Linked DNA regions of Homo sapiens. The protein of the gene in region 1 purifies or fractionates together with the protein of each later gene. This does not show direct contact. Each region holds a gene or a part of one and is shown in the gene's direction. Other genes may lie near its edges. The genes, in order: D2HGDH and SDHB.

Region 1 (3,906 bases):
AGACAGAGATAAAAGAAAAGGCAGCTGGGCCTGGGGGACCACTACCATTAAGTTGCGGAGACCGGTAGTGGCCCCGAATGCCAGGCTGCACTGATATTTATTGGATACAAGACAAAGGGTCAGGATAAGGAGAGTGAGCCATCTCCAATGATAGGTAAGGTCATGTGGGTCACGTGTCCACTGGACAGGGGCCCTTCCCTGCCTGGCAGCCGAGGCAGAGAGAGAGAGGAGACAGAGAGACAGCTTACGCCATTATTTCTGCTTATTAGAGACTTTTAGTACTTTCACTAATTTTGCTACTGCTATCTAGAAGGCAGAGCCAGGTGTACAGGATGGAACATGAAGGCGGACTAGGAGCGTGACCACTGAAGCACAGCATCACGGGGAGACGGTTAGGCCTCCGGATAACTGCGGGCGAGCCTGACTGATGTCAGGTCCTCCACAAGAGGTGGAGGAGTACAGTCGTCTCTAAACTCCCCCGGGGAAAGGGAGACTCCCTTTTCCGGTCTGCTAAGTAGCGGGTGGTGTTTCTTGACACTTTTCGCTACCGCTAGACCACGGTCCGCTAGGTAACGGGTGTCTTCCCAGACGCTGGCGTCACCGCTAGACCAAGGAGCCCTCTGGTGGCCCTGTCTGGGCATAACAGAAGGCTCGCACTCTTCTGGTCACTCCTCACTATGTCCCCTCAGCTCCTATCTCTGTATGGCCTGGTTTTTCCTAGGTTATGATTGTAGAGCGAGGATTATTATAATATTGGAATAAAGAGTAATTGCTACCAACTAATGATTAATGATATTCATATATAATCATATCTAAGATCTATATCTGGTATAACTATTCTTATTTTATTATACTGGAACAGCTCGTGTCTTCGGTCTCTTGCCTCGGCACCTGGGTGGCTTGCCGCCCACAGTTGGTATCGAACTCCTGACCTCAGGTGATCCACCTGCCTCAGCCTCCCAAAGTGCTGGTATTATGGGCGTGAGCCACCGTGCCTGGTCAGAAAAATCAGTTATTTTAGGGGATGGTATGGGTGGTAATCTTTATGGGTTTTGAATCATTCCTAATCCCAGGGGTCCAAGATGCCACTGGCCTGCTAGTCAAAGGGAGGGCGTGTGGAGGTCAGGTGGTAAGGGGGTCCACAGACCTCATCTGTGGTCGTCTTTCCAGTTCCTGAATGTGTAATTGCAACAGTTACCCTTGACAATGGGCAAACTCCCACACTCATCTGCAGAGCAAGGGCCAGCCAGGTAGGAAGGGCCAGGTGGATGTCTCCTTTCCAGGGTTGTATGAATGATTCACCTGGGAAGAAGGTGAGTGGCCTCTGGGGATGTGGTTAAGGAGGACAGGAATGACTCCTTGCAACTGCTGCTCCAGAGCCTCATCACCAGGACAAATCCAGCTCGCCGGTTTTCTGTGTGACTACCAGGACCCATCTGCTGTCACGGGCGTAGCCTCCACCTCTTGCACAGCTCCGCAGTCCTGCCTCGGGCCAAGTGTGGTCTCCTGCTCTCTGCCCTCATCTGCTCAGAGATTGGCATCCTCTGCACCCGCTAGGGTTCTATGGAATTGGGTGAGCTGAAGTAACAAGTGCTTTGGGAGGCCGACGCGGGCGGATCGCTTGAGTCCAGGAGTTCGAGACCAGCCTGGGCAGCACATGAGACCTCATCTCTACAAAAATACAACAACAACAAAAAATTAGCCGGGTGTGGTGGTGCACGCCCGTAGTCCCAGCTACTTGGGTGGCCGAGGTGGGAGGATGGTTTGAGCTCGGGAGGCAGAGGTTGCAGTGAGCTGAGATCAACCCCAGAACTCCAGCCTGGGCAACAGAGCTAGACCCTGTCTCAAAAAAACACAAAACAAGTGCTGGCGATGCCTCAGGCAGGGGATCCCAGGCCGGGAGGCTCCTCGGGACAGCAGTTACTGCGTCAGGAGGGCAGGAGCTCCCCAGGTGTGCAAAGGGTTTGAGGGCACGGAGGGCTGAACAGGCAGAAGGGACAGGGAGGCAAGAAAACACCTGCAGGAGGCAGCTGCCCCCTAAGCTAAGGCTGGGGACCCAGGAGGGGTGGTCCGTGCAGGAGCTGGGGAGGCCGCTGGGGAAAGGGGCGCCCCCTGGGCTCGGCCTCGGAGGAGCGGGCCGGCCCCCAGGTCCCTCGGCCGAGCCCACGTCCCGGGCCTCGTTCTGGAGAACCCTCCAGCTGCTGCTTGGGCGTCTTGGGCTGCGCTCAGCCTAGTCCCTTCTCTACCTGGAGGGATGCGCCCGACAGCCGGCGCGCCGGAGGCCCTCAGGAAACGCAGGACGAGGCGGTGGCCGTCGAGCCTCCGGTGCCAGTCGGGGCGGGGCTTGGACGGCGGGGCGGGGACTGTAGGCGCGCAGGGCTGGGCCTGGAGGGCAGGCGGGGCGGGGCCCGTTAGGCGCGCGGGGCGGGGCTTCGGCCGCTGGGCGGAGCCGTCAATGCGCAGGCGCGGCGTCGCCCCGCCCACTCCGGCTCGGCGGCTCTGGGCCTGCGGCGGGCGCTGCGGGTTGGAGCTCGGGACGTGATCGTGGGTGCGTGCGCGCGGCCGCGCGGAGCGCTGGGCTGAGGGTCCCGGTCTGCGGTTCAGCCGCGGGTCGGGGTGGCGGGGCGCGATCTCGGGCGCCGTCAGCCAGTCGGTGCCTGTGGGGGGAGGGGGACGGCGCTGCAGCTCGTCACGTGACCGCGTGGAACACGCGCGCGCGTCCGCGGGATCCCCTCGGGGGGCGAGCTCGGAGGAACGGGGTCCTGGGCAAGGTCCCGGCGAGGCCGCCCCGAGCCTGCGCGTCGCTAAGTCCAGGCCTGCTGCGTGGGGCTTCGCGCGCTCGCGGGGTTGCGGCCCGGGCAGGGGGAGGGCCCGGGTGCTCGGAGCCTTCCCTTCGCTGCCCTCCTGCCCCCTCCCTGCTTCTGCAAGCGTGTTTCAATTTGTACAACGTGCATAAAACATGAAATTACCCTTGGCCACTTCCAGGCGCGCAGCCAGCGGCTCCCTGCCCTTCCCCTCCGGGCCCTGAGTACCGGCCCCCCACCAAGGAGGAGCCCGAGGTCTCCGTCCCGGCGGCGATGCTGCCCCGTCGGCCTCTGGCGTGGCCCGCGTGGCTGTTGCGGGGTGCTCCGGGAGCCGCGGGTTCTTGGGGTCGGCCGGTTGGCCCCCTGGCCCGCAGAGGCTGCTGCTCCGCCCCGGGGACCCCCGAGGTGCCGCTGACCCGGGAGCGCTACCCCGTGCGGCGCTTGCCGTTCTCCACGGTGTCTAAGCAGGACCTGGCCGCCTTTGAGCGCATCGTGCCCGGCGGGGTCGTCACGGACCCGGAAGCGCTGCAGGCTCCCAACGTGGACTGGTTGCGGACGCTGCGAGGTGGGTGAGGCTTGGGAAGCTGCGGCGTTTCCGCGTCCCTGCTCCGCTGCGCCTTCCCGTGGAGGCTTCAAAGCGGGCTGAGAACAACCTGGATGGGGGTGCCAGCCCCTGGCTGCGCTGAGAGGGGCGTGTGCACCGCCACAGGCTGCTGGAATGAATGACCACGAACGAGTCGCTTAGAACAACCCAAGTTTTGTTGTTGTTGTTGTTTTGTTTTTTCTTTTTTTTAAGACGGAGTCTCACTCTGTCGCCAGGCTGGAGTGCAGTCACGGAGTTTCACTCTGTCGCCAGGCCGGAGTGCAGTGGCGCGACGTCGGCTCACTGCCACCTCTGCCTCCCGGGTTCAAGCGATTTGCCTGCCTCAGCCTCCCTAGTAGCTGCGACTACAGGCGCCCGCCACCACGTTCCGCTAATTTTTGTATTTTTAGTAGAGACAGGGTTTCACCATGTTGGCCAGGATGGTCTCGATCTCTTGACCTCGTGATCCGTCCGCCTCGGCTTCCCAAATTGCTGGGATTACAGGCGTGAGCCACCCCG
Region 2 (3,906 bases), on another chromosome or scaffold:
TGCCCAAGGTAAGTCCCAAGAGTGAGGCCAGCTCTGAGCAGATCCATGGAGGGGGCTGGAAAAAGAAGCTGAGATGTCTAAAATGGAAACTCAGTAAAAAACAAAACCAAAAAACTTTCTTCACAGAACTGCTGTGGGGATTAAGTGGGATAATGGACCATAATGTTTGGCACAGAGTAGAAATGGTTTCTTATATTAAATGGCTAACAAAGCCACCAAGGACTGGGTGTCCTTCTCTGGGCACACCCTCTCGTACAGAACAGAGCTCACAGTGTCTAGCTGTCTGCTCACTTGCCGTCTCCACCACTAGAGAGTAAATTCAATGAGCAGTGACCACCTGGCTTGCTCATTCCCTGCAGCATCCCAGCACTTGGTGCCTGCCACATAGTAGCCACTCCATTCGTATTTATGAATGAATGAATGAACGAACAAAAGAATGGCACCTTTGCCAGCCACCCTTGAAATCACCTCAGCTCATTCACCAACTGCCCAGTTTGTTTGGGACTCTCAGTGCAGAAACCTGGGCAGCCTCGGGCAAGCTGCACGGTATGCGACAGAAAGGGCTGACTCAAGCCAGTAAGCGTCAGAGATGAATAATAAGACTGACAAATTCTTAGGGAGGCTAGGTGTGGTGGCTCACGCCTGTAATCCCAGCACTTTGGGAAGTTGGAGCAGGATGATTGCTTGAGCCCAGCCTGGGCAACATAGCCAGACTCCATCTCTACAAATAATTTTTTAAAAAAATTATCCGGGTGGCCGGGCGCGGTGGCTCATGCCTGTAATTCCAGTACTTTGGGAGGCCGAGGTGGGTGGCTCACGAGGTCAGGAGTTCAAGACCAGCCTGGCCAAGATGGTGAAACCCCATCTCTACTAAAAACACAAAAAAATTAGCCGGGCATGATGGCGGACGCCTATAATCCCAGCTACTCGGGAGGCTGAGGCAGGGAATTGCTTGAACCCGGGAGGCGGAGGTTGCAGTCAGCCGAGATCGCGCCACTGCACTCCAGCCTGGGAGACAGAGCGATACTCCATCTCAAAAAAAAGAAAAAAAAAAAAACTACCCGGGTATGGTGGCTCACACGCCTGTAGTCCCAGCTACTCTGGAGGTGGGAGGATCGCTTGAGCCTGGGAAGTCGAGGCTGCAGTGAGCCAAGACTGCACACCGGCCTGGGCAACAGAGTGAGACCCTGTCTGAAAAAAAAAAAAAAAATTGGCCGGGCGCAGTGGCTCATGCCTGTAATTCCAGCACTTTGGGAGGCCAAGGTGGGCGGATCACGAGGTCAGGAGTTCAAGACCAGTCTGGCCAAGATGATGAAACCCCGTCTCTACTAAAAATACAAAAAATTAGCCGGGTGTGATGGTGTGCGCCTGTAATCCCAGCTACTCGGGAGGCTGAGGCAGGAGAATCGCGTGAACCCGGGAGGCGGAGGTTGCAGTGAGCCAAGATCGCGCCATTGCACTCCAGCCCGGGAAACAGTGCGAGACTCCATCTCAAACAAACAAACAAAAATTCCAGGAATAAAGAGGTTGAAATCGGGGCAGGGACCCGGATAGGATGGCTCCGCCCCATCTAAGTCTTAGCCCCACCCCCTGAAAGTCGCCCTGCCTCTCAGACTCCTCCCCTTTCTGAGAAGGTCACGGGGGAAGCCAAATGGGCATGCGCCGCTACTGCGCTATTGCGCACGCTCGCTGTGCTTGCCCCGCCTTCCCTCCGCCCACCCGGGAAACCGGAAGCCGCCTCCCACTTGGTTGCTCGTACGCGGCTAGTGGGTCCTCAGTGGATGTAGGCTGGGCGCCGCGATGTTCGACGGGACACCGGCGGAGAGCGACCTCGGGGTTAAGGGGTGGGGCTGACGTCAGGAGCCAAGATGGCGGCGGTGGTCGCCCTCTCCTTGAGGCGCCGGTTGCCGGCCACAACCCTTGGCGGAGCCTGCCTGCAGGTGAGTCCTGGAGCCTCAGAGAGGGAAAAGTCAGGAAAGCCACAGAGACTGCCTGGAGCTGATGGGGCTGCGGAGAGACTGAGGAAGCATAGGGCAAGGCCTCAGGGAGATGGAGGACCTCCTCCCCCTGGTGCAGTGCTTTGGTTTGGCTTCGAGCATCCCTGTCAAGTTATCTTTCTGCGCCTCGCAGCAGCTTGTGAGTTAGGGCACGGGCAATTTTTTACAGCTAAGGGTGCGGGGGGGGGGGACGTTCAGAAAGGGGACTTGAATTGCTCAAGGTCACATGGCAAGCGAATGACTGCTGGAACCAGAATTTGAATCCAGACATTGGAGTTCCAAGCCCTTTTTCTGCCACCAAACTATCGCCTCTGTAGAAAAGGGAGACCTGCGGGGTGTGAAGGATGGGAATTGGGAAGCGAGGTAATTCCTCAAGGGTGCGAGGTTGAGGACCGGGATGGGTGAGGAAAGGACATGTGAATTGTTGGGGACAGGGCAGGGGAAGGGAGAGATGGAGGGAAATGCACCCAGCCCCCTACCTCGAAGGATCCCGGAGGTGGGTGGTGGGGGTTGCAGGAAAGACTGGGTTCCTTAAAGCAGTGTCACCACAGTTTCACTAGTATCCTCTCAGTGTTTCTGACTCTAAAGGTCATATAATAATACGGACCTCATAGAGTTGACATGGAATGACAGGTAGAGGGCTTGGCGCTGTTCTTGTTTATTACTATGCCGTGTGCAGTAACAGATTTTCCCACGCCCCTTGTATGGCCAAGAAACAACACATTTCTGACCTGCCTTCTAAGTGGGAACATTTAGAAGGGGAAGGGAAATTGCTTTTGTATACATAAGGGACTAAGGATTTGCAAATCCTTTCTAAGTCTGTTCCTCTTCTGGGATTCTCAACAACCCCTTTAAGGTGGGCAAGCAAGAATCCTTACCCTCCTTTTTGGAGCTTTGAAAACTTGAGGCCCCCAGAAAGAAAATTTTTGGCTTGCTCAAAATATCACATTCCCAAGAAGCAGACCTGAGGCAGTTTTTTAACATGGTACCAGAAAAACTCCTTAGCATAGATCTTGGGACATGGTTGGTGTCCAAGAAATTTTAGTTCCTCTTCCTCTCTTGCACTTAAATGAGGACATCTTTCATCTTAAGTGCCTGCTATGGCTGCATAACACAGTACATATTGCCCATGTTCCAATCCTGGTTCTATCCAGCATGCTGTGTGTGAACTTGGATCCACTCTGTCTGCATCAGCCTTTCTGAAAAGGGGAGATAGAGGAAGAAGACAGCCTACCAGAGCCTCAAGCTGACATCCTCTCAGTATTAAATTGATGATTGATAATGAGCTTGTTTACCTGTTCCTTTTATAGTTGCTGAGCAAACAATTAAATTGTGAGAGCCCCACTAACGAGAGAGTTCCAAGCCCCTCTTCTAAGAATGCATTGTAGAAAAGGCTAATTTCATAGGTCATTTTTGTAATTCCAGGCAAGGTCTTTGCAGGGCCTCCTGAGGGCAACAGAAAATAGAAGAGCCCCAAGGCCTCCCCTTCCTTGTGGGAATGTACATGTATACCCACAAAAGCCACCTCAAAAGAATTCAGTAATGAGCTTGGTGTGTTACCTGTGGGTAACATTCAGGTTCAGGTTCTGAATTCTTTTTATGCTTATAGTCTGACCACTGAACCACAATTCTGCCTGTAAGTATTTGACTGTAGTATATTAACTATTGTTTGTGTTGCCTTATTTCTTCATCTGGACTATGAACTCCTTTAGGACAAGAACTACCTACTTAAAAGTGTGTATCTTGCCAGGTGCAGTGGCTCATGCCTGTAATTCCAGCACTTTGGGAGGCCAAGGTGGGTGGATCACCTGAGGTCAGGAGTTCAAGACCAGCCCGGCCAACATGGTGAAACCCCGTCTCTACTAAAAAAATAAAAAAAAAATTAGCTGGGCGTGGTGGTGGGCGCCTA

What was found.
Region 2: the proteins of D2HGDH (region 1) and SDHB purify together in Homo sapiens (affinity purification with mass spectrometry; 2 studies listed by BioGRID and IntAct, with this or other methods). This does not show direct contact.

Annotation. Positions count from the first base shown.
Region 1 is NC_000002.12:241,732,148-241,736,053, forward strand, and holds the start of D2HGDH (D-2-hydroxyglutarate dehydrogenase, mitochondrial isoform 1 precursor), read left to right. Parts: upstream 1-2,482; 5' UTR 2,483-2,548; intron 2,549-2,985; 5' UTR 2,986-3,077; coding exon 3,078-3,369; intron 3,370-3,906.
Region 2 is NC_000001.11:17,051,982-17,055,887, reverse strand, and holds the start of SDHB (succinate dehydrogenase [ubiquinone] iron-sulfur subunit, mitochondrial isoform 1 precursor), read left to right. Parts: upstream 1-1,855; 5' UTR 1,856-1,868; coding exon 1,869-1,940; intron 1,941-3,906. UniProt on the Homo sapiens protein: Iron-sulfur protein (IP) subunit of the succinate dehydrogenase complex (mitochondrial respiratory chain complex II), responsible for transferring electrons from succinate to ubiquinone (coenzyme Q).